Linked DNA regions of Homo sapiens. The protein of the gene in region 1 interacts with the protein of each later gene in a pairwise test. Each region holds a gene or a part of one and is shown in the gene's direction. Other genes may lie near its edges. The genes, in order: KRTAP5-3 and FUCA2.

Region 1 (15,988 bases):
ATTAGCTGGGCATGGTGGTGCACACCTGCAGTCCCAGCTAATGGGGAGGCTAAGGTGGAAGAATCTCTTGAGCCTGGGAGGTTGAGGCTACAGTGAGTTATGATTGCACTGCTACACTCCAGCCTGGGTGACAGAGTGAGACCCTGTCTCAAATAAATAAAAAATAAATAAATAAATGACATTGTCAGCTTGTTTACTTGTTTGTGATTATTTTCTTTTTTACCTTCCTCTTCTTGTTTTTAATAGAGATAGAGTCTCACTGTGTTGCCCAGGCTGGTCTCGAACTCCTGGGCTCAAGGGATCCTCCTGCCTCAGTCTCTCGAGTAGCTGGTACTACAGGCATGCACCACTGCCACTAGTGAATATTTTGAAGGCCTGATGATTTACAATGAGCACAGGGAGACCCTGTATGGAGCCTAGAGATGTTGGCTGGTTGTGGAGTGGTCACCGAGGGAGCATCTTAGCATGAATCTCTGGTCAGAGTGATCGGGGAACCAGACTCAGTCTGGAAACAAGCAGGGGACACCTTCAGCTTACAGACAGCAGATTGTGGAGTTGCTCAACTTCCATAATTGCAGGGTCCAATTCTTCAGAATCATCTATGTATCTATCTATGTATCTATTTATCTATGTATCTATCGATCATCTAGGTATCTCTGTATCCATCTATGTAAGTATGTAAGTACCTATCTATGTATCTATGTATCCATCTATGTATGCATGTACGTATGTATCTATGTATCTATTTACGTATCTATCGATCATCTACGTATCTCTATATCCATCTATGTATGTATGTAAGTACCTATCTATGTATCCATCTATGTATGTATGTATCTATCTATGTATCTATGTATCCATCTATGTATGTATGTGTGTATGTATGTATGTCTGTATCTAGCTAGCTAGCTACGTATCTATGTATCCATGTATGTATCCATGTGTGTATCTATGTATCTATGTACCTATCTATCTATCTATCTATCTATCTATGTAGGGACAGAGCCAGCCCAGTGCAGAGCCCTGGCTTCCTTTCTGTGCCACCAGCCACTCCACCTCAGTCTCCATTGCTTAATTCTCCTCCTCCAGGCCCTGAGCACTGGGCGGTGCCAGGTTCAGCCGGGGGGTCTCTATCTCACCTGCGACCTCCTCCATGTCTCTCACAACACCTTCCCCTCTAGGTTCCACACTCACAGGCCCAGGTGCCTGCTTCTCATGGACATCTGGCCTTTCAAACTAAGCACATCCCAGACTGAACTCCTCCTCCTTCCCCTGGAACCAACGCCTTCCCAGCCTTCCCCATTGTAGTTCACAGCAGCTCCATCCTTCCCAGGGCTCAGGATAGAAGCCTGGGCATCCTCTTGACTCCTCTTCCACCCTCCACATCCAATCCAACAGCAAATCTCCAAGGTTCTACCTTGGAAAAGTATTTGGAATCTGATTCGCCAATTGCCTAATTGGTGATTTATCCAATGACCGCCTTCACTGCCACCACCCGATATTGACAGCACCTCGTGCATTCCAGCTACTCTCCCACACACTTTATAAACATGACTCCCTGAGTATCTGTGAGGTATGCACTCTTTTTTCAATTTAACTTTTTATATTCGGGTGATTGTAGATTCACCTGCAGTTACTCATAAGAAGTTACTCGTAAGAAGTTACTCGTAAGAAGACACAAAGGGGATCTCATGTACCCTTTCCCATGTCCCCGGTGACAGCATCTGGAATGCAGGTAACATAACAACACAGTGATATTGACCTTGGCACGGTCACAATACAGATCATTTCTCTAGCAAGGACCCCACGCGTTGCCCTGATGCAGCCCCCACATTTCCCTCCTGTTCTCCATTTCTGTAATTTTGTCATTTCGAGAATGCTCCATGAATGGAAACACACAGTGTGTAACCTTTTAAGACTGGCTTTTCCTACCCAGCATGATTCTCTGGAGATTCATCTGGGTCATCGAGCGTCTGTCATTCCTGCCATTTCATGGCTGAGACGTGTCCCCTGGCAGAGGTGAACCAGTGTGTTTCCCCTTCACCCATCAAGGGACATGTGGGTGTCTCCAGCATTTGGTGATCATGAATAAGCCTCCTATTAACATTTGTGGACAGGTTTTCCGTGTGCACATGTCTCTGGGATAAATGCCCAGGAGTGAGATTGCTGTGTTGAATGGCGGTTGTGTGGTTAGTTTTTTTCATAAGCTGCCAACCTATCTTCCAGAGTGGCTGTACCATTTTGCATTCCCACCATCAACATACGAGTGGCCCAGCTTCTCTGCCTTTTGCCAGCATTTGGTGTCGCTGCTATTTTTTTGTTAAGCCATTCTCATAGGGGCATCATGATATCGCATTACTGGTTAGTTTGTCTTTCCTAAAGTCTGAGGATGTCAAACTTCCTCTCACATCCTTATTTGCCACTGTACGTCCTCTTCAGAGAATTGTCTCTTCAAGTCTTTTGCCCATTTTTGGATCGGATTGTTTTTGTGTTTATGTATGATTTGCTGTTGTGTTTTGAGAGTTCTTTACATGGTCTAGATTTGTATATTCCAGTCCTTTGTCAGATATGTGGTTTGTAAATATTTTGGTTAGGGTGCAAAGTTATTTTATTTATTATTTATTTACTATTATTTTTAGACAGGTTCTCACTTTGTTGCCCAGGCTGGAGTGCAGTGGTGCAATAATGGCTCACCGTCCCCTTGATCTTCCAGGCTCAAGTGATCCTCCCAACTCAGCCTCCCAAGTAGCTGGGACCACAGGTGCACATCAGTATGCCTTTTTTTTTTTTTTTTTTGTAGAGATGGGGTCTCCCTAAGTTGCCTAGACTGGTCTCAAAATCCTGGACTCAAGTGATCCTCCCGCCTTGGCCTCTTACAGTGTTGAGATTACAGGCATGAGCCACCATGCCTGTAAGCCAAAATTCTTTTTAATATACTGCTGAATTCTATTATGAATAGTATATTTTTCTTTTCCTCTGTCACAGCAACTGGCTGCCTGGGTTATGGAATAAGAGGCAGAGCCCCAGGTGTCTTGTGGTGGTGGGAGGTGTGGGTTGACTCAGCTACTGAGATCTTGGTGTGGTTTGTTGCTGCAGCACAACCCAGGCCATCCTGACTGACACTGGGTGACCGAGGGGCTGGAAAAGAAAACATGCCGAGAAAGGCAGTTTCCACACGAATACACAAAAATCTATACTGCATTAATCAGGGTTCTCCAGAGACACAGAACCAGTGGGAGATTAGGTACATAGGTAGATTAGATAGATAGATAGATGCATACATACATAGATAATAGATACATAAATGGATAGATAGATACAAAGATAGATAATAGACATATAGATACATAGATGGATATATATAGAGATACATAGATGATAGATAGATACATAGACACATAGATACATACATAGGTAGATACATACATAAATAAATAGATGATAGGTAGATAGATAGCTACATAGACAGATACATAGTTAGATAGCTACATAGATAGATACATACTTACATAGATACACAGATAGATACATGGATACATAGATACAAAGATAGATACATAGATGGATAGATACATATATAGATACATAGATGATAGATACATGCATAGATAAATAGATACATAGCTACATAGTTACATAGATAGATAGATAGATAGATACATACATACATACATACACACAGAGAGAGATACACAGATACACAGATGATTATGAAGAATTGGCCCATGCGATTCTGGAGGCTGAGCAGCTCCATGATCTGCTGTCTGTAAGCTGAAGACCTAGGAAAGCCGGCGGGGTCATTCTGTTCAAGTCCAAAGGCCCGAGAACCAGGGAGCTGACGGTGTGAGTGTAAGTCCGAGGGCAGGAGACCGATGTGCCAGCTGGAGCGGTCAGGCAGAAAGGGACTTCCTCCACGTTTTGATCTATTCGGGCCCTCAGTGGATCAGAGGAAGCCACCCACATTGGGGAGGGCGTCTGCTTTCCTGAGTCCACTGATCCCAATGCTGGTCTCATCCAGAAACTGCCCTCACCGACCACCAAGAAATAACATTCAGCCAAATATCCGGGCACCCTGGGATCCAGCCAAATTGACACATAAAATTAACCATCACATATACCTGATTCAAGATTTTAAAACAGATGACAAAAGTTTTCAACTTTTACAGAAAAATATATCATGATCTCAGAGAAGTATTTCCTAAATAAGGCCCCAAATACTCTAATTCTAAAGGAAGAGGTGGGTGAATTGATAAGTTAAAATTAAACACTCAAGGATTCTCATTTAACAAGGGAAGGCCTCGCGAGAATGAAAAGATGAACCAAGGAGGATCTTGCAACATAAAAGCTGACCACACGATAGTTTGCTGAGTAAATGACGAGTAATGGGAGCAGCACACCAACATGGCACATGGATACATATGTAACAAACCTGCCCGTTGTGCACATGTACCCTAAAACTTAAAGTATAATAATAATAAAATAAAATAAAATAAAATAAAATAAAATAAAGCTGACCGTGGCTCAGCATTTGAAAACCCAAAGAGCTCACACCAATTAGCAAGCAAAGAAAACAACTAAACAGAGGAACCAACTCATAGACATCAGCAGGCATTTTATAAAAGAGGAAAGACAGGTCGGGCGCAGTGGCTCACACTTGTAATCCCAGCACTTTGGGAGGCCGAGGCGGGCAGATCACGAGGTCAGGAGATCGAGACCACGGTGAAACCCCGTCTCTACTAAAAATACAAAAAAAAAAAAAAAAAAATTAGCAGGGCGTGGTGGCGGGCGCCTATAGTCCCAGCTACTCAGAGAGGCTGAGGCAGGAGAATGGCGTGAACCCGGGAGGCGGAGCTTGCAGTGAGCCGAGATCGGGCCACTGCATCCAGCCTGGGTGACAGAGCGAGACTCCGTCTCAAAAAAAAAAAAAAAAGAAAGAAAGAAAAGAAAAGAGGAAAGACAAAGACTTGGTGGGTGCAGTTACCTTTGTTCCCACGGGCTCCATAGTCTGGTGATGGGGGTGGGGGCTGGAGTGAGCAGGCATTTCCCAGTCTTAGAACTCCAGCTTCAGCCTTCAGCCTTCTCCAATTGCCCACATGGCACAGGGGCTCTCTCCAGGGTCTTTCCCGTGCCTCAGCTGTCTATTGCAACAGCAACGGGTTTTTTGGTATTTGAGATGATCAAGTTGGTTCTAAAATTTAGCTGGAGAAGTAAAGGAATTGGAAACAAACAAAACAATCTTTAAAAAGAAGAATGAAGTTGGAGTCTCACAATACTTAACTTCAAAACCTCCCATAATGTCACAGTGACGCTGTGTTTGCATTAGGAAGCGGCATACAGACCTGCGGAGCGGGACACAGGAAGAAACTCGCCATCGTGTCGGCTGATTCTCATTAAAAACACCAGTGATTTCAGTGGGATAAGCACGGTTTGTTTGTTTGTTTGTTTGTTTATATCGAGACAGAGTCTCACTCTGTCACCCAGGCTGGAGCGCAGTGCTGCAGTCTCGGCTCACCGCAGCCTCTACCTCCCGGGTTAAAGCGATTCTCCTGCCTCAGTCCCCTGAGTAGCTGGGATTACAGGCGCCCCCCACCATGTCTGGCTAATTTTTGTATTTTTGGTAGAGACAGGGTTTTGCCATGTTGGCCAGGCTGGTCTTGCACTCCTGACCTCAGGTGATCTGCCCTCCTTGGCCTCCCAAAGTGCTGGGATTCCAGGCGTGAGCCACTGCGCCTGGCCAGGAAGGTCTTTTTATCAAATGCTGCTGAAACAATTGGATGAAAATGTGAAAAAATGGATCTCAACTCCTACCTCACATTACACGCAAAAATTAGCTTGAGATCCATCATAGAACTAAATATAGAAACTAAAACTCTAATGCTTCTAAAGGAAATGCTAGGAAAAAGGGTTTTCAAAGAGGTCACAAGAAAGCACTAGCTGTCAAAACAAATGTTAACGTGGACTTCAAAATCAAAAACATTTCCATATAAAAAGTTCAGATAACAATAAGGCAAGTCAAATACTAGAAAATTATATACAATATATATATTCTACATATATATATTATATACACACATATACACATGTATATGAAATATATATGTAAATATATATACGTACATATGGCAAAGCACTTCACATATTCATTCTTGATATAGAATTTATGAAGAGTTCCAACAACTCAATAACAAAAAGACAAAAAAAAATCACAATAAAATGGGCAAACAATTTTAGCAAAACTTTTTAACAAGAAAGATGTGCAAATGTCCAATAAGTGCAAGAAAGAATCCTTGCGAACATTAGTCATCAGAGAAACACAGGTCAAAATGCACACGAGATGCGATTTTACACCCATCCGATGCCTCACATTTGAAAAGCCGCTGGCTGGTACTGACAGGCCTGGGGCAGCGGACACTCTCAGGCATTGCTGGGGAGGGGGAAAGCAGCATGAGCATTTGGAAAGCTGTCTGTTTCTTAGCAAGTTAAGCATACACTACTCTATGGTCTAGCAAGGCCAGTCCTCAATATTTGACCAAAAAATTAAAACTAAAAACATGAATACGGAAGGACTGGAAGGCATGATTATGTGTTATTCATCATCGCCCCAAACTGTGAACGATTCAAATATGTATGAACGTGAGAACGGGGGAACGCAGTGGAGAATATTTTTACATGGAATAAGGGGGGCCCCACCCCTCATATTTTCTTATGCCCAATTTCTGTCTCCAAAGAAAAAAGAAGTAAAAACTAAATCCACAGGCAGACAGCCCGGTGCCACACCCTGGGCCTGGTAGTTAAAGATTGACCCCTGACCTAATCGGTTATATTATCTATAGATTCCAGACATTGTATGGAAAAGCATTGTGAAAATCCCTGTCCTGTCCTGTTCCGTTCTGATTGCCGGTGCATGCAGCCCCCAGTCACGTACCCCCTGCTTGCTCAATCGATCACGACCCTCTCACACAGACCCCCTTAGAGTTGTAAGCCCTTAAAAGGGACAGGAATTGCTCACTTGGGGAGCTTGGTTTTTGGAGACCTGAGTCTGCCAATGCTCCCAGCTGAATAAAGCCCTTTCCTTCTACAATTCAGTGTCTGAGGGGTTCTTGTCTGCGGCTCGCCCTGCTACAGAAACACTATGCGGTGATTACAAAAGAAGAAGAAGGCCAGGCGTGGTGGCTCATGCCTGTAATCCCAGCACATTGGGAGGCTGGGGCAGGTGGATCGCTTGAGCCCAGGAGGTCGAGGCTGCAGTGAGCCATGAGCGCACCACTCTGCACTCCAGCCTGGGTGACAGAGCAAGACCCTGTCTCAAAAAAAAAAAAAAAAAAAAAAAAAGAAGAAGAGCAAATCATTGACACACAGAATAACATCGTGAGGGAAAGAAACCAGAGTACATTTTTAATGATTTCATTTTTGCAACATTCAACAACAGGCACAACTGGTCAGCAGAGCTGTGCCTGGAGCGATGGGCAGGAAGGGAAGGCGGCGAAAGGGAAACTTCTGGGGGTGAAGCAGTTGGTCATGGTTGGAGTGATGGGCACACGAGTACATGTTTAGCGGAACTCATGGAATTGTACACTCAAAATATGTGCAGAGCCCAGGAGACCAAGGCTGCAGTGAGCTAGGATCACACCACTGCCCTCCAGCCCGGGCGACAGAATGCGACCCCGTCTCAAAAAAAAAAAAAAAAAAATGCAGCCCAAGCCTGGTGGCTCATGCCTGTAATCCCAACACTTTGGGAGGCCAAGGCAGGTGGATCACCTGAGGTCAGGGGTTCGAGACCAGCCTGGCGAACATAGTGAAACCCCGTCTCTACTAAAAATACAAAATTAGCTGGGTGTGGTGGTGGGTGCCTGTAATCCCAGCTACTTGGGAGGCTGAGGCAGGAGAATTGCTTGAACTCGGGAGGCAGAGGTTGTAGTGAGCTGAAATTGCATCACTGCACTCCAGCCTGGGTGACAGAGGGAGACTCAGAAAAAAAATTTTTTTTCACTGCATGTAAATTTTACCTTAATAAAAAATTAAAATTTGGCTGGGTGCAGTGGCTCACACCTGTAATCCCAGCACTTTGGGAGACTGAGGCGGGTGGTTCACCTGAGGTCAGGAGTTCGAAACCAGCCTGCCCAACATGGTGAAACTCTGTCTTCACTAAAAATACAAAAAAATTAGCCAGGCCTGGTGGTGGGCGCCTGTAATTCCAGCTACTGGGGAGGCTGAGGCAGGAAAATTGCTTGAACCCAGGAGGCAGAGATTGCAGTGAGCCGAGATTGCGTCACTGCACTTTAGCCCTGGTGACAAGAGCGATACTCCTTCTCAAAAAAAAAATATTAAAATTAATCTTTTAGAAAATAAAAGTGTGTTAGAGAGGTTGGCTAATCAAAATTTTTGTAGCCTTCAAGAAGAATAAACTTGAAGAATATCCATTGATTTGTAGAATTTTTACAAAGAATTAATAGAGGAAAACTCAAAAGCATTAGAAAGGGTCCTGTTCCTCTGTTCCCTCTGTGAGCCCAGCTTGCCTGAAGGGAACGTGGGTCTAATCCGTGTCTGGAGGAGTGAGCCAAACCGCAGGAGGAAGAGGTAAGAAAGACAAAGGAGAACCAGGGCCACACTCAAATCCATGCTCTTCAAAACTTTGTTTTACAGATTTGACAAAATATTTATACTTGAAGTTTTTAAGCGGTGGAACCTATAGACAGCCTTTCTTTCAGCTTATTTTTTTAATTTTTATTTTATTTTATTTTTTACCAAATGACCATCCTTGATATAAACACCAATGCCAGGGGGTGGAGGGTCTGCATCGCTGAGGAGAGCCCTGAGCACCAAGGACAATGGTCCACCCTTCGGCCAAGCAACCACCGCCTCCCAGGCTCCTGGGACACCCACTGGAGAGGGAGCCCAGTGTCTTCTAACAAAGGGAAACACCTATGAGGAAGAGGCCAAATTTAGAAACCAAGGAAAGGACAGCTTGGCTTGAGCTGATGGTGGCTCATGGGATTGTGGAGAGATTAAAAATAACACTTGTGCATGTGAAATAGCAGAAACAACAACAGAAGTATTCACGTGTTCAGTATAAACACCTGGGCAGGAATATAAAGAGCCCGGGCTCAGAGAACTCCACACCTGCACACCTCCCTCTCACCTGCTCCTCTACCTGCTCCACCCTCAACCCACCAGAACCATGGGCTGCTCTGGCTGCTCTGGAGGCTGTGGCTCCAGCTGTGGGGGCTGTGGCTCCAGCTGTGGGGGCTGTGGCTCCGGCTATGGGGGCTGTGGCTCCGGCTGCTGTGTACCTGTCTGCTGCTGCAAGCCCGTGTGCTGCTGTGTGCCAGCCTGTTCCTGCTCCAGCTGTGGCTCCTGTGGGGGCTCCAAGGGGGTCTGTGGCTCTTGTGGGGGCTGCAAGGGGGGCTGTGGCTCCTGTGGAGGCTCCAAGGGGGGCTGTGGCTCCAGCTGCTGTGTGCCCGTCTGCTGCTCCTCCAGCTGTGGCTCCTGTGGGGGTTCCAAGGGGGTCTGTGGATTTCGTGGGGGCTCCAAGGGGGGCTGCGGTTCTTGTGGCTGCTCCCAGTGCAGCTGCTATAAGCCCTGCTGCTGCTCCTCAGGCTGTGGGTCATCCTGCTGCCAGTCCAGCTGCTGCAAGCCCAGCTGCTCCCAGTCCAGCTGCTGTAAGCCCTGCTGTTCCCAGTCCAGCTGCTGTAAGCCCTGCTGCTGCTCCTCAGGCTGTGGGTCATCCTGCTGCCAGTCCAGCTGCTGCAAACCCTGCTGTTCCCAGTCCAGCTGCTGTAAGCCCTGCTGCTGCTCCTCAGGCTGTGGGTCATCCTGCTGCCAGTCCAGCTGCTGCAAGCCCTGCTCCTCCCAGTCCAGCTGCTGTGTCCCAATTTGCTGCCAGTGCAAGATCTGAGGCTCTGCCCACAAACCTCAGTGGGTCCTACAGATCCGGGCTCTCCAGGAATGATTGCAGCTGTGTCCTGAATTCCTGAAGCACGTCTCTGAATCTGTCCTCCTCTGGACTAAGGCAGCCTAGCGTCCAGGGCTCAGTACTCAGCCGCTCAGCCTCTGAGGTCATGAGGGCTTCTGGCATGCTGGGTCCTGCCCATCAACCCTCCCGGAATCCCGTCTTCCTTTCCTGACCCCACCACTTCAACCTTCTCAGGGCTTCAAGATCCCACATCCCTGGGCCCCTCCTGTGAGCCTGCTGGAAACACGCTGACACTGGAATCCTCCGACCTGCTGCCGCCTCTCCCCGGTCCCCGCAACCTCCTGGCTCCTCCCCGCTTCGTCTTCATCCTGCCTGAGCTGCCACCGCTCCGATTGCTTTTGGAGTTGACCTAGAGGACTCGGAATTATTGGAGACCCCAGGATCCTCTCCTGAGGAGGAGGGGCGCCCAGTCTCCTCTTCTACCTCCGACCTGGCCCTGTTTCTTTCCCCAGGGCTTCGCCTTGTAAGTGCCTAGGCTAGATCTTCTAAATAAATACGATCTGCACCTCCCACGAGTTTGCATTGTGATTCTTTTGTTTCAACTTCTGTGTGATTAGAGAAATGTACACTTTCCACAGAGTTGCACTCCCAGGCATTTGGGAACCCCCCGTACCCTGCTGTGTGAGTTTGCTAGGGCTGCTCCACAAACCGTGTGGCTTAAGCAACAGGAGTGGATTGTCTCACAGTCTGGAGTCCGGAATCCGCCATCGAGGTGCCTCAGGGCCGGGTCCTCCTGAGGCCTCCCTCCGTGGCTTACTGATGCCGCCATCCCTATATCCTCACGTACTCATCCCTCTGTGTGTGTCTGCGTCCTCATCTCTTTGCATAAGGACACAGATTAGACTAGGGCCCACCCTACTCCATTAGGTCCATGTTTGAACTAATCACCCCTGTAAAGACCTATCTTCAAATAAGGTGCCATTCTGAGATACTGCGTTGAGGACTCCAACATATGAACCAGGGGGCACAACTCAGCCGTGGCATCCACTTGGCTTGGGGCGTCTCCGTCTTTCCCATCTTCCAGGATACAGAATTGGGAGGCCCCTTGGGCTTCTCTCCCCCACAAGTCGCCAAATCCCTCAGCATCTCCTGGAAGGCTTCCTACAGACATCTATTTCCTGCCTCCTTGTGACACCTCCCTACACAGACTTCTGATTCAGGTGCCCACCTGTCCCTTCCCTGCTGCCTCTGTCAGCTGGGGCTGCCAGAACAAAACCCACAGAGTAAGCCTGGAAGACGGAACAACAGACACCATTTCTCCCAGTTCCGGAGGCTGGAGGGCCTAGACCAAAGTCCAGCATGTTCGACTCATGGGGAGGGAAGGCAGGAGCTGGCGGAGGAGGAGGTGGGCTGCAAGGCTGGAGCCCCCAGACCCAGGCGTCTGTAACAGCAGAGCGCTGGAGGCTGCTCGGGAAGCCACCGTCTCACAGGATGGTAGGCAGTGAGTGCCTGGCGGAACTGCGACAAGAAAGTGAAAACTCAACAACACGGAAGTTTCAGAAATTGCTTCTGAGTTTCTGTTTCGGTAGTAAGGTTGACTAGACACTATTCACAACCCTGAAACTTCTAAAAGGACATGGTGAAACCCCGTCTCCACTAAAAATACAAAAATTAGCCAGGCATGGTGGTGGGCGCCTGTATCCCAGCTACTTGGGAGGCTGACGAAAGAGAATTGCTTGAACCCAGGAGGCGGAGGTTGCAGCGAGCCTAGATCGCACCACTGCATTCCAGCCTGGGCGACAGAGCTAGACTCTTTCTCTAAATAAATAAATAAATAAATACATAAGTAAGTAAATAAATAAAGCTTTAAAGTGCTATGTTTAAAGCATATATATTTTTTTTAAGTCACTGAGCTGTTGAAAAACTAAATAATCCTCAGAGCCAACAAGCAAGAGAGAGCTGGACCCACAGAGGAAGGTGAAAGTCAAAAACGGCCTCCACCCCATGGCTGGACCAGAAAGAGGCCCTGTCTGTTTTCTTCCACCTGTGTTATTGGAAAAAAATATTTGACAAGGAAACATACACCAAACCCAGCTCTTTTGTTTAAAAGCCAATTGCAAAAACACAGAACGAGTGACCTGGTTTAATGGTGGCTAAGAACGATAGAAAAAGGGCCTGGTCTATCTGAGTTAAATTTGAGCTCAGGATGAGGCTAGGGTGTGGTGTTGCTGCCGAAATCCACTCTGTGGTCTGAGGGTGGATTCGTAGCCACACGGTGTCCAACTCAGGGGTGAATGAGCCCCTCCCCATCAGCCCATGCTAGTTCCTTTAATGGACTTTTTTTTCAGAGCAGTTTTAGGTTCACAGCAAAATTGAGAGGAGTGGGCCACAACATCCCCCGTGCTCTACAATGAGAGCACTTCCTCAGAGCCCAAGACAGTAGGCCACTCTCTGGGGGTCCCCAGGGGCTCAGGGTGTGGCTGGCCTGTCCCCAGCTCAGGAGAGACCAGGAGTTGTCTAACAGTTCCTTCATTGGAAGTCTCTGTGGATGCCTCCCACGGACCTGAATGTTGAGGGCCCATGATTTCTACAGTACATTGAGGAGCCGGGATGCAGGGCCCCTATTTCCTCTATGTGTGCCCTGGACACCCCAGGCACAGGGGACAGGCCTGGCCCTGCAACCCCACCAGGGTCCTGACACCAGGCTTGGCCTGGCCTTGTGATGAGCAAGAGAAGAGGCAGGTCCAGAGACACCTCCTGCACGGGATCGCCTGCTTCCGACCCCCATGACAGGCAGTGGCCAGCATGGTGTGGAAGGGGCCAGGATGGCACACGGCAGGCTGCCCTGTAGCCCCAGATGGCTCCTGGCCTCAGGAAATTAATATCCACTGGAAAACTCATCACTTGGAGGCTGCCAGAGGGAAGGGTGAGTGTCACGTTCCTGCAGCCATGGCCAGCCAGCAGCATGCCCTGTGGCCTCTGGCCCAACCTGTGGGACAGGGACCCCAGACAGGGCACAAGTCCCAGTCCCAGAGGGTCCTGGCCTGATGCTAACCCAAGCCCTGTCAAGGGAAGGGCATCAGGGGCGCCATGGGCACCCAGCAGCAGCCAGGAGGATCACACAGGGGACTGAGCCTTCTGTGGCAGTGGCCGGACCCAGAACTTAGCCAAAAGCAGGGCAAGCCTCCTGGATCAGAGCGGGTGCTGCTGCCTGTGCATGCCCAGCAAGGCTGAGCCAGTGATGCTACCAGGGTCCATGAGGCAAGGGTGGGGCAGGAGCAGGCTGACCAGCCGCCAACCTCGTCCACTCCAGGAGGCAGGGATGGCCAAGCTCCCACGCCCTCGTGGCCGCCACCTGACCACCGATGGGGCAGAGGCCTGAGGCCAAGCAGTCAGTGCTGGGGCCCTGCTTCCAAGGTCTACAAACTGCTCCAGTCCGGAGGGCCAAAGATAATTGGGCACGTGAGGGCCCAGGAGGTCAGTTCCCTACGTCTGCCATCCTTGGCAGGTGCATTTCATGGTCAGAAAAAGTCAAGAAAGGTGACACCTCTCAGGTGTTATTATGAAGGACTCTCCCAAGACACATCTTTTTTTACATTTATTTTTATTGTACATATTCATGGTGGACAACATGGTGCTGTGGTAAACATGTACACTACTGAAATGATGGCTGCAATTAATATCTCCAACACCTTCCATGGTTCCTTTTTGTATGTGTGTGTATAAGTGTGTGTGCATGGGTGTGTTTGGATAAGTGTGTGTATGAGTGTGTATGCATGTGTATGAGTGTGTGTGTTTGTATGATTATGTGTGTATGAGTGTGTGTAAGGTGTGTTTTTAATTGTGTGTGAGACTGTGTGTATGTATGTATGTGTATGAGGGTGAGTGTGTGTGTGTATGTGTGTGTATGAGGGTAAGTATGTGTGTACGATGTTAGTGTGTGTGTATGTGTGTGTGGTAGGAGCACCTGGAGTCTTCTCTCAGCACACCTGCCACACACAACACCTGACTGTCACCTGTAGTCCTTGCACTGTGCACTGGACTGCTCGGCTCCCTCTCCTACACAACCGCAAGCCCTTGACCTCCTCCTCCCCCTTTCCTTCTTCCTCCAGACCCTGGTAACTACTGTTCTATTCTATGTTTCTATGTATTTGACTTTTTCAAAATGTGGAATATATGCATACATCTATACGTGTATATATGGAATATTCTTCAGCTTTCAAAAGAAGGAGATCTGGTTACTTACAACAACATGTACAAATCTGGAGGACATTACACAGGGTGAAAAGAGGCAGACACAGAAAGACAGACATCACACGCTCTCCCTCACACATGGAGTCTACAGGAGTGAAACTCACAGAAGCACAGAGTGCAAGCATGGGAACCAGAGGCAGGGAAAGGGGAAATGAGGAGGTGCTGGCCCAGGGGTCCAAAGCTTCAGTTCTTCAAGATAAATAAGGCTTGGAGACCCAATGCATAGCAAAGTGACCACAGGTAACAACACGGTGTTTATTATGTACTTAAAACGTACTGAGAGGGTAGATCCTACATGTTCTCACCACCAAGAAAAGAGAGAGAGAGAGAGAGAGCTATGTGAAGTGGCAGATGTCTTAATTATCTTGACTGTGGTGATTATTTCACAATGTAGACATATATGAGATCATCGAATTGTATGTCTTAAATATACACAATTAAAAAACAATAAAAGCCACCCCCAGTGCCAGGCCCCACAGGCACCCCCACCCAACCCTCCTACTTGCACATACAATGTATAAAAAATAGATGCGCATACACAATTGGGTATTGCTACCAATTCGGATTTTATTATCCACATTTCTTTGCAACTTAATTCTTTTCACTAGAACTTGTATCATGGTTGCCTCTCCTAGGAAGTAGATCTGGGTATAAGTCTATGTTTCTTTACGCGCATGCGTATTCATATATGTGGAGTTTTTCCACAAGTAGGATCACACATACTGGACTCACTTTTCACTGTCATTTGCTTTTTGTTGATTCCTACACACCTTCCCCACTCCACCCAGCCACTGTCCTACGTACCCCAGGCACACACTCAACATATGTGTAAAAGATATTTTTATTGCTTGCTACTAAAATAGGATCCTACAGGGCTCATTTCTCTGCATCTACATTTCACACTAGCCAGAGCCTTGAGGAAATTTCTCCAAGTCCACTGGTACAGGTGTAATCTTATTTTTTAGTGGGTATGACTTTTAGTATTAATTTTCAATTTGCTAGGATTCTTTTTCTGACACTGTAAATAATAGATCATACACATATATGTATACACGAATATGTTTACGTTTAATCTTTTTTCAGTAATTTCAAGACTAATTGTATTGATATGACCTAATTTTATTAGATATTGTTTTCAAAAAAACTGTAATAAATTGTATCCCCAGAACAATGTATGAGTACCTTTTCCCCCAATTTCACTAGCAATAGGTGTTATTATTCTTGTTAATTTTGGTCAGTCTAGTAGATATAAAATGTTGCAGGTAGCCACTAACTGAGTCCACTAGCGTGGGCAGAAAAGGAATTTACCAAGACAGTTGTAGGTAAGGAAAGGCAGATTTATTAGAGAATGTAGGAAAATACGTTGCAAGAATGGAAAGGGCAGGTCAGCAAGGGAGGAGCTGGCTGCCAGGAGACAAAGGCTTGCTGGGGATTTTATAGGATGGTGCTTGTGCCGGAGAGGGTTACATGCAGTGCTGATAATGCCAAGGTTTCAGTGAGCTAATTTGCATTTTTCTATCAACTGAGGTCATAAGTTGAGTGCAGGAAGATTGTGAGTTATGTGAGTTATTTGCATAGGAGGGCTAAGTCCTGCACCAGGAAGAAAGGCAGACTTGTAGTTCATCTGCCTTCTCTTTTTGCTTTCCCTTGGTCCAACCAACCTGGCTCCTTTTCCATCATTAGGACTCCACAGAAAAGATCCCGTGTATCTGACTACCAGTGAGTCTGATTTACTTTTTATATTTTTAATTGCACACTTCCATTTGTTTATCAGAGAATCATCTTTTTAAAAACTTGGTTGTTTGTATTCTACTTGTCAAT
Region 2 (16,745 bases), on another chromosome or scaffold:
GTATAAAGGTATACATTGTTTTTCTTATCTATGTAGTTGGTAGACTATTCACTTTTGGGTAATTTTATTAAAGAGGAACATCCAAGCTTATGATTTTATAGTAGGATGAGATTACACGTGGTGAGTATATTTTAAAGTATAGAACTATTGGGAATAGTAGGGGTTTTTTTTTGCCCCTCTGGTTAAATAAATAATCAGGCTAAAAGAGATTTGCTATACGTGGATCACCAGTGTTCTAAGAATCACACTATAATAAAATAAACAATCCTAAAACTAAGCAGTAGACTTCAAGCTTTGGTTTAGAAGACACTAAGAATCTTGCAGGAGTGCATCTCAGGATCTTCATAATAAATAGTGGTAGTCATCATTTAGCATGGTACATGTATATGTTCCCATCTTAGTTGTGAGCTGCTATTGTTGATTGTTTATACCTTGTGCTAGCAGTTGGCTGGAGACATAGCAGGGAGCACTGCAGACATGATGCAATCCCTTAAGGACCTTAAAATCTAAGAGGGAAAATACTGGAGATAGATCAGACCGTACAGTGATATACCCTGAAAGTTGCTTTTAAAAACCTGTCTCACCTTGTTTAAATTCTCACTTCTCATATAAAAGCACAATATATGCTATGAAAAAATGGCCATAAAACAGTCATTTGTAGGAGCAGGTATTTATATATCGCATGTACTATGTGATTTGTTTGGGCATTTGTGTGGGTTGAAATTTACTAAAATAAAGTTGACATGCTTACAAGGGTTTTCACTATAATTTTCTAGGCTTTACCTTGTGGGGGTCAGAATATTCGTGGAACTGGAATGCCATAGATGAGGGGCCCAAGAGGGACATTGTCAAGGAACTTGAGGTAGCCATTAGGAACAGAACTGACCTGCGTTTTGGACTGTACTATTCCCTTTTTGAATGGTTTCATCCGCTCTTCCTTGAGGATGAATCCAGTTCATTCCATAAGCGGCAATTTCCAGTTTCTAAGACATTGCCAGAGCTCTATGAGTTAGTGAACAACTATCAGCCTGAGGTTCTGTGGTCGGATGGTGACGGAGGAGCACCGGATCAATACTGGAACAGCACAGGCTTCTTGGCCTGGTTATATAATGAAAGGTGTGTATGCTATGAGATTGCTGCAGTTACCCTCCATATTCCTAATATATTTCTAACATTTTAATTCCTTCACCTCTTGAAATATTTCATTTTAAGTCATTGGTGGTATGGGGGGAGAAAATCATTGTAAATAATACTTATTAGATATATCACTATTTACTCAACATAATCAAGGGTAAATAAATCAGGAGTAAAATCCAACTCAATGGTCTGATTTTGAGATCAGACTAAAAATCACAGGATCAAGAACTTTGAAGGTGTTAATTTTGTGGGTCCCCCCTTTTTCTCTCCTACCCTGGTCCTTTATGGCCTCTATTCTGGGACAACTCTGTTTCTTCATCACTATTTCTGACTATTTGCTTCTGAATCCCGCAGACTGCTTCTTTTTATCCTCTTACCTTTTGGTCATCTTTGCTGCCCAGCCAATGTCACCCTTGTTTGTCTCCTCTTTTCCTTCATCGCAGCCTTTTCACTTTCTCCAGTTTTTTCCTATTGCTTCCTGGTATGTTCAAGGCTGCCCTATTAGAACAGGGAGTTCTGATTAAACTCCTCCATTAGGCTTAAACTATATGGACCAAATTTGCATGTACACTAGAAAGCACTGGGTATTGTGCTACGAAGTCAGGCAACCTTCTGCTTGCACTTCCTGGGCCCACAAAGGGCACAAATACAAATATTCTGAAGAACTCTTGATACTTAAAACAGCAGTGTGTCCAGGTACTCCTTCCAAGGGAAAAAACTGGGAGCCATCACTTCAATTTGTGACTCAAAACTGTTCCCTCTATGTGGCGTGTATTTCCCTCTTAAATATGCCACCTGCTATGATAAGCAATATTGTGGGGATATTTCACATGATATCAACAGTCAAATTTTCTGAGATTTTTCAATATTAGGCACAATGGTAAGAGAAAAAGAAAGGCTAGACTACATGTATGAGATCATTGAATCATTGAAAAGAAAAGTGTCTTGGGTATAAATTCAGTTTTGGCTACCATTTACAATATGGAAGGGAGCTTAAAATATTCATATAATACTCTTATGAGTGCTATATGTGCTGGGTACCAGGCTAATGTTTTACATAACTTATTTTTGTTCTAATCATAGATGAGGAAATTCATTATTCAGAGGAGTCAGGTAATTTGCTCTAGGTCTGGGAGCTAGAAAGTGACAAAGCCAGAACTCCAATCAACTCAGGTCTGTTTGACTTCAAAACCATGGGCTTTCCACTGTACTATGCCATGGTCCCTTTTCAGAATTGTATTTCAATTACATGTCTTTTCAGTGACATTTCTTTTTGTATAAAAAGCTTATACCTTTTGTTTTAAAAAATTGTATGTTTCATTTCAGCCCAGTTCGGGGCACAGTAGTCACCAATGATCGTTGGGGAGCTGGTAGCATCTGTAAGCATGGTGGCTTCTATACCTGCAGTGATCGTTATAACCCAGGACATCTTTTGCCACATAAATGGGAAAACTGCATGACAATAGACAAACTGTCCTGGGGCTATAGGAGGGAAGCTGGAATCTCTGACTATCTTACAATTGAAGAATTGGTGAAGGTACAGTGAAATGTCTGGTGGCTATTAACATAATATTCTTAATAGTGTGGTCATGTAGGAATTATTTCTTCTATGGCTCAATGGCCTATAAATATAGGACATTGTTCTATCCTGTGTTTGTTCTTCTAGGCAGTGACTATATATACATGTATAAATATATAAATGCAACATATTAGCACATTAAAGATGGAATTATTTTATTTATCTAAAAACATTATTCTTAATTTTTTAGCAACTTGTAGAGACAGTTTCATGTGGAGGAAATCTTTTGATGAATATTGGGCCCACACTAGATGGCACCATTTCTGTAGTTTTTGAGGAGCGACTGAGGCAAATGGGGTCCTGGCTAAAAGTCAATGGAGAAGCTATTTATGAAACCCATACCTGGCGATCCCAGAATGACACTGTCACCCCAGATGTGTGGTAAGTCATTCTTGTTACCAAGTACTCTTTTATAAAGGAAGAGATTTAAAATTTATCAGACATATAAAGAAGAGTAGGATAAAAAGAGAAATTGGATGAATTCCTACATATACAAAGCACTTTCCAAACTTTGCTTACTCTAATATAAAGAGAAGGGGAAGAATTTGCATGTTTTGAAACATTTATTGTTTATCAGATTGAGCTTACATCATTTCTAGGTATCTCCCAGTAGTGGACAAATTTTGGCTGAAAGTACTCAGCTCTTAGAAAAATTGTAAGCTGTTCAGACCAATGAAAAATGCTGAATGGTTAGTCTAAAACGGAGATTACTGTTTAACCAGTTCGGTAAATTCTGACTTTTGCAGATGTTGCATCCCATGAAATTAGCAAACAAGAGGTACCCAATGGCAGAGAAAATGTTAGATTAAAAATGAATCAAAATAGGGAGGGTTCAGGGAAGATGCTTCTCTCTGAGCTTGAGGAGGTTCTGTGTGTCAATGAGTACCCGAATCAGACTCCACAAATATGACAGTTTCTGATATGGTTTCTTAACATATATAAAATAAGATGAGTATTGGTGAAGTTCTAAAAATTCGCTTTCAGTTGCCACCTGAGTACTGTCTGATCAAATAGGAACCGAAAGATTAGACTAATTGTTCTTCAATCTACTTGACTTATGACTTAAAACATTAACAACCCATTGAATAAAATGGAGTAAGGCAATCTGGACAGAGCAAATAATTGTGGAATTTTAAAATGTTGATCTGGGAGAAGCCATAATGAGAACTCAATACCAATCTCTCATGTGACAGAGAATAGTAGAAATCTGGTTTTGGAATTTGCTTCTTACTTTTGAATACTTACATTTGAATATGAGGGTATCTGATCTGGGACTTCACAATCATTAACCATTATTCTATTGTGTTTATTTCAAGAAATAAACATAAAAGCTAAATATTTAATGTGGCTTATAAAACTGTGAGTCTGGCTCCTACCAACTTCCCTGCCACTGAGTGGTCCTGCTCTCCCTCCTCACCATAGGAGCCTTCTTCCCCCAGGGTTCATCATGCCCACCTTCTTGCAGTCACCTACAGACTCCCAGGTCAACCCTTAAAATCCTTTGAGAGAGCCCTGGCTTGCTGTCCCTGTCCCCAGAACTACTCTTCACATAATTCTTAGAGATTTAAATTTTTATTCACAGTTCTAATTACCTGCACCTCCTGTCTTCTAGGGGTCTTGTCCGCTTGACCTTTGTTACCTGTTCCTTTGCATTATCAATATACAAGGTCATATTGGTAATGCAAAGTCGAACTTCTTACTCAACACTTCCACTTGGATGCATAGCATCTTAGACCTGTACGTCCACAACTGAAGCCCTGAGTTTTAAATTTTTGCTGTAGACTAGCTCCACCCACGGTCTTCTCCATCTCAGTTAATGGCAGCTTTATCCTTTAGGTGGTTGTCAGGCCAAAAACCTTGGTGTCCTTAACTTCCCTTTCTTTTATAAACATACTTTAGACTTTGCATTACCAATAACTGAACCCCTTCCACGGCTCCAGTTTGAAGGATTCTGCCATCTACCTACCACTTCTTATATTTTGGCTCACTCTGCATGGCACTTCGGCTTCCAAAGGGATCTATAATCCAGTGATCATACTATCTTTTAATCCTATCATCTTTTCTCTGTCTTTTTCCTTATCCGGGACAGATTCTGTGGCCCATCACTGTAACTAATCTATTGCATACACCCAACTCCTGAACCCTTGCTCCCTCTGCCATACTCACTTGACGGAACATCAACTTTAAATACAGATCTACTTATTCCATGCCTGCTTCTGGACAGCTAACTGTTAACTATGGAAACACACACACACACACACGCACCCAGACACATACAATGTAAAATTATCTCACTTTTGGCTTTAAGGTCAACCCTTGTGTCCTGATCCCATTGCAAATCATCCACCCAAGGATTGTTATAGCAATTCTCCCCTTTAACTCAATTTCACTTGCATTTCTAGTGATCTTCCCATTTCTCTCCTTTCCTTTGTAGTAAAACGTCTTGAAAGGATTGTTTTCACTTGCTATCTCTAATTCCTTGCTACAGTTTTTCTCTTGAACCCCCTCTGGTCGAGCTTCCACCCCCACACTCCAGAATTGCTCTTCTCAAGGCCCACAATAACATCTGCCTTGCCAGTTCCAGTGATGAGTCCCCAGTGCTCATTTTCTTAACTTACTGGCAGTGTCTGCCTCAGTTTATCACTGTCTCTCCTGGTGTTTGTCGTACCTTTTGGCTCTTCCTTCTTAGTTAGTTCCTTTGCTGATTTCATCTCATTTTTCCAACCTCTAAATCTTGAAGTGCCCTGAGGTTTAGTCTTTGGACTTCCATTCTTCTCTATCTTTTTTTGAGTGCACTGGTGCGATCTTGGCTCACGGCAACCTCCACCTCCCAGGTTCAAGTGATTCTCCTGCCTCAGCCTCCTGAGTAGCTGGGATTACAGGTGTCCGCCACCAAGCCTGGCTAATTTTTTTGTATTTTTAGTAGAGATGGGGTTTCACCATGTTTGGCCAGGCTGGTCTCGAACTCCTGACCTCAGGTGACCCGCTTGCCTTGGCCTCCCAAAGTGCTGGGATTACAGGCGTGAGCCACTGCGTTTATCTTAATGTCCCAGGTGATCTTATCCATTTTCATGGCTTTAAATGCCATATTGATGATCTCCACATTTCTATTTCCAGTGCAGACCTCTTTCCGAACTCCAGCCTCAATAACTTCCTACTCAGCATTTCCACTTAGATGCATAGCATCTTAGACCTGTACATCCAAAACTGAAATCCTGAGTTTTAAAATTTTGCTATCAACTAGCTCCACCCATGGTCTTTCCCATCTCAGTTAACGGCAGCTTCATCCTTTAGGTGGTTGTCAAGCCCAAAACCTTGAAGCCCTTAGTTTCCCCTTCTTTTATAGTCACAGCCAACCCATTAGCAGATATCATCCTCTGCATCTTTGAAATATATTCAGAATCTGTCCACTTCTTATCCTCTCTGTGGCAACCCTCATCCTTTTAGTTTCCATTGTCTCGCCCCTGCCTGGATTATTTCAGTAGCTTCTTAATAGGTCTCTATTTCTACCCTTTAACCTATTCACCACAAAGCAATCAGAGTATACTTTTAAATAATAATGCCACTCCCATGGTCACATTTCTCCAATGGCTTCCAGTCTCAGAGAGAAGGCCAGGTCCCATAGATGCTTACAAGGGCCTATAAAATCTGGCTCCTATCGCCTCTCTGATCTTATCTGCCATCACCCTCCCCCACTTCCTCTCCTTCAGGCACTCTGCCTTGCTAGTGCATCAACAGGCAGAGCACACTCTTGCACTGGGGCTCCTGCACTTGTCATTCTGTCTGGAAGGTTTTCCCCAGACGCTCCCGTGGTGCTCTTATGGCGCTCCCATGGTTCTCTTCCATGCCACCTCTAAGAAGTCTTCCCTGACTATTCTGTTTAAAATAACACTCCCAGGCCCCTCCTTTCCTACCTAGCATGCCCTGTCCTTCTAACCTGGCTTGTTTTCTCCATAGCATTTAATCAACACCTGACATATTTGTTGATTCTAATTTCTTCCACTAGAATGTAAGCCCCATGAGGACAAGGACTTTGTTCAATGTTGTATATAGCTCTAAAACAGTGTCTAGCATTTTAAGATTTCAATAAGTATTTCTTGAGTAATTGAATGAATAAATGAATGAAATCCACTTTTTTTTTTGTCCACAGCATACTTCCCTTACCTTCTTCTTTGCTCCCATTCATCCTTTAAGTCTCAGATTAAATGTTATGTTCCTGGAGAGGCTTCTTTCTGATGTTCTAATCTAAAGAGATCCTTTTGTTATAATCTCTCAATTTCCTTTTCTTTCATGGTGCTTATCAGAACTCACACTTTCATATTATTTGTGTGATTGTTTAGTGTCTGCTTTCCCCACTCTAGTCTAAGCTCCATAAGAACAAGGACTATGTGTGTTTTGTTTTTTATTGTAACTCTAACACTGAGCACAGTACTAGGCACAGAATTGACACATGCATATCTTGTCTTGTTGAATGAATGAATGAATATAAAAATTTGAATAATACATGAAAAGCCATGAAGCTCTTGCATCCTGTCCCCTTAGATCATCTCCCTCCCCTTTTCAGCTCCATGAGAGCAGTCTGATGAAGAGGAATGCTAGCTCAGGAAAATCTTTGTCTTCCAAGAACTTCCTTTTGGTCTTGGGGGAGGAAGGTGTTTTTTTATACCACCATGAGGCTATTTTTCCTTCCCTTCTATTAGTGGTGACATTGTGGAAGTATCTGTAAAATAATTCCAGATTGTTCCTGATCCATAAATAGTGAGAAACATGGGATGTAACTTGCTACTATGCTCTTTATTTTTTTCTTTTAACCAGGTACACATCCAAGCCTAAAGAAAAATTAGTCTATGCCATTTTTCTTAAATGGCCCACATCAGGACAGCTGTTCCTTGGCCATCCCAAAGCTATTCTGGGGGCAACAGAGGTAAGAGGGAATTTTACCTTATTCCTTTAAATTGCTGATTAGAACATCTTGATGCAAACATTAACTTTTAAGGGGAGCCTTATAACTGTTTCACTTATACTTCATAAAAGGAATTGTAAATGAGCTCCAGCCAAGCATTGTGGCTCACACTGTAATTCCAGCACTTTGGGAGGCTAAGGCAGGAGGATGTCTTGAGGCCAGAAGTTTGAGACTAGCCTGGGCAACATAGCAAGACCCCTGTCTACAAAAATTTTTTTTAAAGTTAGCTGAGCATGGTGGCACGCACCTGTAGTCCTAGTTACTCAGGAGGCTGAGGCAGGAGGATTGCTTGAGCCCAGTAGGTCAAGACTACAGTAAGCTATGACTGCACCACTTCAGCCTGTCTCTGAAAAAATAAAATAAAATATAATAAAATAAAATGAATTTCACCAATGACAGTGTTTGGTCAAAATCTTTGAAACTTTTTGTTTCCCAGAAAACTAAGCTGATAAAACAGCTGCAGTATCTCTATGCATATCACTGTAAAATAGACATTATTCTTCACAGTCATTTTACGTTGTTCAAGTTCACTGCATGCATCCAAAATGATTCTTCTCATAAAACTAGAATTCGGATGCTTTCCCTGACACCCCACCCCAGAACATATCTGAATACAAGATGTCATGACTCTACTATTTTATGTTTATAAAACATTTTGGAGAAAGTTAGAGATTAATCTAACTGTTGAAACCACCAGATCTGGCATTGAGTTCATTCTGATATATTTTATAACTTATTTTTTTAAATAAATTATCCCTTTGGAGGTGAACTGTCCATATGGGGGTTCTCCTTGCATCACTTTTCTGCATTTCATTTCTAATACATGTGGTTGATGAGGCAGAAAGAAGATGAGTTCAAATCTAATGTTTAATTACAGCTTAGTAGCCCAGGTATGATACTGATTATGTTTTTATTTTATCTATGTTCTTTTTGGTGCCAATTAACATTATTATTTAAAAGCTCATGGGCTTTGTTTTCATATTGATCCACCTGAGAAGCAAAGTTTTTGGTTCAAAATAACCCTAGAATATGTAGGGAACTTATTTGAATTTGCTTAGTATAGTAAGACTAAGAATATAAAACAATTACAGTAATAATTGATCAAATTTATGTATTATTGATTAGTGGAGGTTATTAGAAAATCTGGGGGAGGAACGCTGAGTAGATACTTGGGCAGACTCTGGTTTCAGAGCCACTTTCTGCTCCTGATCCTCTCTTTAGCTTTTTCTCCACTCTGAGACTCCATTCAGTCTTGAAAATTCTCCTTCCCCAACCCCTGCACACTTCTATTTCCCTCTTGAGAGTAAAATAGAAGCAAGAATATAGAGGCAAGATACATACACTCAATTGGATGAAGAGTGATTGTGAATCACTAAATAAAGGTAAAAATGAACCTCTTGTCTACAATTTTGTTTGAACTACTAATCACTCCTTCCCAATAGAAAGTGGGTGAGATAAAGAGATAAATTTGGAGACATTTGCATGTATGTTTTTAATTTCAGGTGAAACTACTGGGCCATGGACAGCCACTTAACTGGATTTCTTTGGAGCAAAATGGCATTATGGTAGAACTGCCACAGCTAACCATTCATCAGATGCCGTGTAAATGGGGCTGGGCTCTAGCCCTGACTAATGTGATCTAAAGTGCAGCAGAGTGGCTGATGCTGCAAGTTATGTCTAAGGCTAGGAACTATCAGGTGTCTATAATTGTAGCACATGGAGAAAGCAAATGTAAAACTGGATAAGAAAATTATTTTGGCAGTTCAGCCCTTTCCCTTTTTCCCACTAAATTTTTTCTTAAATTACCCATGTAACCATTTTAACTCTCCAGTGCACTTTGCCATTAAAGTCTCTTCACATTGATTTGTTTCCATGTGTGACTCAGAGGTGAGAATTTTTTCACATTATAGTAGCAAGGAATTGGTGGTATTATGGACCGAACTGAAAATTTTATGTTGAAGCCATATCCCCCATGATTATATAGTTATGCATCACTTAATATGGGGATATTTTCTGGGAAATGCATTGCTAGTCAATTTTTTTTTGTGCCAACATCATAGAGTGTATTTACAAAATCCTAGATGGCATAGCCTACTACACACCTAATGTGTATGGTATAGACTGTTGCTCCTAGGCTACAGACATATACAGCATGTTACTGAATACTGTAGGCAATAGTAACAGTGGTATTTGTATATCGAAACATATGGAAACATAGAGAAGGTACAGTAAAAATACTGTAAAATAAATGGTGCACCTGTATAGGGCACTTACCACGAATGGAGCTTACAGGACTGGAAGTTGCTCTGGGTGAGTCAGTGAGTGAATGTGAAGGCCTAGGACATTATTGAACACTGCCAGACTTTATAAATACTGTATGCTTAGGCTACACTACATTTATAAAAAAAAGTTTTTCTTTCTTCAATTATAAATTAACATAAGTGTACTGTAACTTTACAAACGTTTTAATTTTTAAAACCTTTTTGGCTCTTTTGTAATAACACTTAGCTTAAAACATAAACTCATTGTGCAAATGTACAAAAATATTTTCTTTCTTCATATTCTTATTCTATAAGCTTTTTTCTATTTTTAAAATTTTTAACTTTTTACTTTTACAGAAACACACACATTAGCCTAGGCCTACACGGGGTCAGGATCATCAATGTCACTGTCTTCCATCTCCACATCTTGTCCTGCTTAGAAGGTTTTCAGGGGCAATAATACCCACGGAGCTGTCATCTCCTGTAACAATGCCTTCTTCTCACAGACCTCCTGAAGGGCCTGCCTTATGCTGTTTCACAGTTAACTTTTTTTTAAGTAGAAGTACACTCTAAAATAATGACAAAACATATAGCACAGTAATGCATAAACCAGTAACCTAGCCATTTATTAAGTACTATATACCTTACATCATTTTATGTGCTAGATTTTTATATGACTGGCAGCACAGGTTTGTTTATACCAGCATCACCATAAACAACATGATTATCGTGTTGTGCTACCTTATGATGGCTATGATGTCACTAGGTGATAGGAATTTTTAGCTCCATTATAATCGTATGGCACCACCAACATATATGCAGTCCATTATTGACTGAAAAGCTGTTATGTGGTACATGGCTATATTTCGAAACAGGGCCTTTAAAGAGGTAACTAAGGTTAAGTGAGGTCATAAGGGTGGGGCCCTAAAGCCAATAGGATTGATGTCCTTATAAGAAGGGGAAGACACACCAGGGATACAAGTGCACAGAGGAAAGGCCATATAAAGACAGTGAGAAGGTGCCATCTGCAAGTCAAGGAGAGAAGTCTTTGAAGAAACCAAATCTGCTGATACCTTGATCTTGGATTTTCAGCCTCCAACACTGTGAGAAAATAAATTTCTGTTGTTTAACCTGAGTAGGGGTTGTGTTTTCTATTCCCATTTGCTGCAAGGTATGTTTACCAAAGGCTGTTTGAGTTTGTGACTGTAGTGGGTCAAATAGTGTTCCCCAGTAATTTATGTCCACCTGCAACCTCAGAATGTATTCTCACTTGGAAATCATGTCTTTGCAGATGTAATAGGTAAGTATTGAGATAAGCTGATATTGGATATGAGTAGGTTCTAAATCCAATGACAGTATCCTTATAAATGACAGAAAAGGACACAGAGACAGAAGGCCATGTGACGACTAGGCAGAGATTGGAGAGGGAGCATGGCCCTGCTGACGCCTTGATTTTGGATTTCTAGCCACCGGAAGTGTGAGAGAATAAATTTCTCATTTTAAGCCACTTGTGGAGTGGTAATTTGTTACAACTGCTCTAGGAAACAAATACAGTTACCAAACAAACTGATTATGCCAGGTGAACTTTTTATGATGATAATATGAGCCAAGGACGCAAGCGTGAAGAGTTCTAGTTTCTGTTAAAGCCAAGTTAAATACTTTGGAAAGACTAGATAAAAGTTTGTTGACTTTAAAAATTTAAAAAAAAAAAAAAGCTATTGGTTAACTGTGGGCAAAACTGCTCTAAAAGATTGGGGGAAAATATAGTAAAAATCTTCAAGAATTCTGCATCTGTGGTTCACACCTATGTAATGTAATGCATGTAATTTGTATAAGAAAGATAATTAGATTACAAGCTCCAGCTTGTAATCCCAGCTACTTGAGAGGCTGAGGTGGGAGGATCCTTGAGGCCAGGAATTCAAGAAAGACAATTAGAGAACATCTATCAGCAGACCTATATGGGAAGGCAGCTATGCTGTACCACTATATCACCAACAGCCCGACTGAGTAGATGTACACTAAAAAGTTAGAAAAAACCTGGATCCTATAGTAAATAAGTGGTAAATATAGAATATTTAAAGTTAAAATGTCTATATATGTACTTTTTATGACACCCTGATTTAAATAACTTTTTAGATTAACCAAACAACTAAAGGTTTCTGATGAGAGGGCTCCTGCTATACTATTAGAAGGCAGATTTGTACTATCTAAGAACAATTAACTTTATTTTTGTATTTATTCATTTTTTTGAGACAGAGTCTCACTCTGTCGCCCAGGCTGGAGTGCAGTGGCATGATCTCAGCTCACTGCAACCTCCGCCTCCCAGGTTCAAGCGATTCTCCGGCCTCGGCCTCCCAAGTAGCTTTAAATACATGTGGTTTTTACCTTGTCATCTCTTCCACTGCCACAGTTATACAGACGCATATGATTCCAGGAGATAATTTTCAGCTGATCAAATTTGTATCCTTACAAGGCTACACCTGTTTAGTCTCAAATTTTCCCTGGATGAAATCCTGGGTTAATTTTGTTGGAAGAGATGTGTGCCCATTACACACTCATTCCCAAATTTACCAAAATGCTATTTTTCATTTGCCCCATTAAAAGTGAGAATATCATATTTTGTCAAATTTTGAAAAGAAGCATATTCCCTCCTCTCCACCACTACTTTTTTTTTTTTTTCCCAGACAGGGTCTCACTCTGTCACCCAGGCTAGAGTGCAGTGGTGCAATCATAGCTCACTGCATGCAGCCTTGACTTACTCGGCTCAAGTGATTCTCTCACCTCATCCCTACAAGTAGCTGGGACTACGGACACATGCCACCATGCGTGGCTAATTTTTTTGTAGAGACAAGATTTCACCATGTTGCCCAGGCTGGACCATTACCTTTTTTTTTTTTTTTTTTAAAGTTAATTACAGCATTTGAGGAAGAGGATCTAATTCCACACAAAATGGAAGACTCTAAAATGTACCCATTAAACTGCTAAAAAATAAATTGAGTGGTGAGAATACCACATAAGCCCAGTTTAGATTCTGAGTGCTGTCACCCTGTGATTACAATTATACAGACTCTTCCAAGCTTATAGCTAGAGCTCCTGGAAGCTATTTTATACACTGATGCAAGGACAAAAAAACCACAACTCAGGAAGGAATTAAGTCCTGAATTATTGGCTTCATCACATCCACCCTCTCCACCCCAAAACAGCACAAAAGAAACAGTGACCACACCCTGTAGATCTTTTTGTGTAAAAGAGGTAATGAAGACCTGGGATGGGAACAAGTCATGAAGATCTGTCTTTAAAAGGTCCCTTTCAGGTAAATTTGTACACACCATCAAGCAACAAGCCTCTCATCAGTTAGGGTTAGGAAACCAAGGTTCAATTCTCAGGAAATCACAATTTCATTCATTTACTCAATATGAATTTACAAGGTGCCTATATATTATCAGCTTCCACTTGCAGCCATTTCTAGATAAAAAAGAAACCTGGCATCTCTACAGGGGCCACCAAGTTCCCCAAATCTACCACTGAAGGGACCTTTTTGGAACTGGGTTTCTTCTGTACCCCTGAAAGGGTAACACCTTAAAGCTGAATCATCTTTAACCTGGAGGTCCAATATGACATTTAGCAATACTTGCATCCCAGCCATACAACATTAAAAGATACACTAAATTGTGAAGGTATCTATGCTGCAAAATAATTTAAACAATTCTACAGCATTCATTTATGCTTGAAATTCCAGTCCTAGACCAAGCTTGTGGCCACTAGCATAGATGTTCTTGCCACCCAGGAGAGCTGACAGTGTCAGTATGAAACCTGGCTTTAGGGTTTAAGTGTATCCTAAACCTATCAGGCTGGAGTTGTTCACTTTAGTGGAGAAGTGGGCTTTAGGATCGATCTGATACTTGGCTGCTATTCTGAAGCGAGTGTTCCTGTTTCTTGCTGTCCCAGCGAGACTGACAGCAGTCTCCAACTTCTTGCTCACCTTCTGCTAATTGGAGCTGCCAAACTCTGTCCCGTCATTCACATTAGTGTGAAGCTGGAATTCATCAGTCTTGTGGCCAACCGCAAAGTTGCTCTGGGTCACTCAGGACTTTGTGGTCTCAAAATTGACCTGGTAGCTGGCCAGCCAATCCTCATAACCCAGCACTTAAGAGTGCCTCGGACTGAAGGCTCAGCAATGTCCAAATCCACGTCGCAGCCCAGGTTAATGTGCTCCCACTTGTATCCTGTCTTGATTTTAGCACTTTTCCCCCAGTGTTAGGCGAGAAGGATGAATGGAGGGTCAGCTTCAGTCCACATGCTAACTGGTCTTCCATAGTAATCTCGGTGCCTAGTGTGTTGTCAGTGTTCCATTTCTTTGCAAATGTCAGGCCATATTCGGTCTATCTGTACTTGGTTTCCAGACTGCCTGTCACTTTGGTGGTCTCAGTGTTGGCTGAGCCTGAGCTTGTAAATTCCAATCCATTCTCAGATTTTGTTTTCAAATCAGGTTTTATTAAGCCAAATCCATATCCCTTGGTGAAGACATGCTTGGCAGATTTGCCAAGATTAGCATATGTGAGTGGCACAGCCATCTTCTGCTCAGAGACAATGCCAGTGGGCTCAGAGGTGTCTATGGTGAGGGCTATGGCTCCACTACCTATTTTTAAAAACATTCTAGACACAAACTCCCTGGCAGTGAGCTTCAGGCCTAGCCAGGCCTTAGAAGAGATGTCATAATTTATTTTCTACCTTCTACTGTTCAGCTACATGTTACGCTGGAGGAACATAAAACAATGTTACTGAAAATATATGTCAACATACTAATGATATATAATGATTTATTTACTTTTGCCCTAATTACCCTTCTAAATGAAGAATTACAGATGTATTACTAGAGATAATGAATTATTTCTTTTTCAGAAAGTAAAGCTATTTGCTTTTTACTAAATGAACAAGTTAACAACAACAAAAAAGCACCAAGTACACGACCAATTAAAATGAAACTTAAACTAGCATGCTCTCTCTTCCGAAATAATAACAAAAATGCTATGGGATAAGTAAATTAATAGCTGAAAAATATTAACTCAACAAAATAATATTTTACTAAAATAGTTTATTGCAATAAGATTTTCACTGTATTCAAAATCAATACAAAGTAAGTTTTTAAAATTATGTACAAATGATTAAAACTATGTAATTAGGTGAGTAAACAGCATCAACACAATTTTAGCCTCTAAACCAATATGTAACTTTCTAAGGCTTTTTAATAAAACCTTAAAAAATATAGTGAAGAAATAGCAAAGAACATAGTTCATCATAGTTGTTGGAATTCACTATTTCCATAAGAATAAAAAAGTCCTCCATCAAGGTATATTTGAGACAAATAATTTATTATTTTGAAAGGTAGCTGGAGAAAAGTCTGATTCACTTCTGTTTACAGCAGTCTAGGGAACATTATAATTAAATAGCATATTTTTCCAAACTTCACACATCCTAGACCTATGTCTCCAACAGATTTTTCCTCAGTATTAATATGGTAAAGTACACTGAATTTTGTATTTTTATATATATATATGTATATAAAATATCTATATTGATTTTTAGTCAGTTTGGAACAAATGTCCATGTGTAACAAATTATTAACAATTCTGATATTTGCACGTGTATATATATATGCCCACAAAAACTGGTCTGTTGATGAATCTAAAAAAATATATTAAGATGCCAAATAAATTGATTTCATTATGAAATGAAGACTTTTATTAAGAATATATTTTATCAGGCATTTTGATAACAAACTGTTACTCTAAGTATAGGTGATTTACCCAGTGTATTTTAAAAAGTAAATGAATCCCACTGTAGTTTTTCTTGAAGGAAAAATCATTTCTCCAGTTGCTGAGGGGTACTAAAAGCTTCATACACATTAGCAGCAAAGTCTTTCACTTGCTCCATTGTCAACAGATCCTAGCAAAGATGATAATATAACATTATAGTTTGCAAAACATATAGCTAATTTGAATTAATTTCTGCAATCAAGCGATGAATTCAGCTCTAAGTTTTGTGGTAAAGGCCAAGAGGCAAACCATTTAAGAAAATGAGTAGTTTTTCTTGTAATAAATTCTAGGAGATAGTTATTATTTAGGTTCTTATATGAGGGATGATGGTATCATAAGCGTTCAAGTGTGACTTTGAGGGACAAAAACCCCAAATAGTCTTCAAATGAATTTTGGTGTATGTCAAGTGCTAGATAGGTATCTGTTGAATAAATAATTGTAGGAGTAAAGGTACTTTTGCTGGAAGCTGACATAACACGGTTAAGGGTGTATTACTTTCTAGAAGATCTAACATACGGTATGAATATGTGTAGTAAGTGCATATTTTACATATACACACATACATGAACCACACATATACACTATAGTGTAAGGGTTATTAACACCCCAAGGGATTTGCGAATGTGAAGATAAGAAAAAAATTACACCTTCATTTTCTTTAACTTCTAACCAAAATCTGGTATCTCTTTCAATTATGAATGTAGGCAACAAACTGTGATAATATTAGCAGGTTGTATGACTTTGTCTTCAATAGAAATCATAGGCATTTTCATGTCATATGACAGTTGTGGAAGTTATCAGAACTCTCATTATATCTTGGTATTTAATGCATGAATAAAGAAGCAATACCGCTATATCATACACTTAATTTTAAAAGAAATTTTGAAAACTATATATGATTGGTTTCCTTTATAATATTATGTATTTTATTGTATGCACTTATAAATATTGTTCTGAGAAGGGGTCCATAGGCTTCACCAGTCTGTGAA

Evidence for each region.
Region 2: the proteins of KRTAP5-3 (region 1) and FUCA2 interact in binary tests that used the Homo sapiens proteins (3 or more experiments, as listed by UniProt).

Annotation. Positions count from the first base shown.
Region 1 is NC_000011.10:1,601,576-1,617,563, reverse strand, and holds KRTAP5-3 (keratin-associated protein 5-3), read left to right. Parts: upstream 1-9,100; 5' UTR 9,101-9,178; coding exon 9,179-9,895; 3' UTR 9,896-9,999; downstream 10,000-15,988. UniProt on the Homo sapiens protein: In the hair cortex, hair keratin intermediate filaments are embedded in an interfilamentous matrix, consisting of hair keratin-associated protein (KRTAP), which are essential for the formation of a rigid and resistant hair shaft through their extensive disulfide bond cross-linking with abundant cysteine residues of hair keratins.
Region 2 is NC_000006.12:143,488,284-143,505,028, reverse strand, and holds the end of FUCA2 (plasma alpha-L-fucosidase precursor), read left to right. Parts: intron 1-776; coding exon 777-1,116; intron 1,117-2,463; coding exon 2,464-2,674; intron 2,675-2,906; coding exon 2,907-3,097; intron 3,098-7,531; coding exon 7,532-7,640; intron 7,641-9,181; coding exon 9,182-9,322; 3' UTR 9,323-10,217; downstream 10,218-16,745. Other genes in the region: PEX3 (peroxisomal biogenesis factor 3), read right to left, coding at 15,803-15,886. UniProt on the Homo sapiens protein: Alpha-L-fucosidase is responsible for hydrolyzing the alpha-1,6-linked fucose joined to the reducing-end N-acetylglucosamine of the carbohydrate moieties of glycoproteins.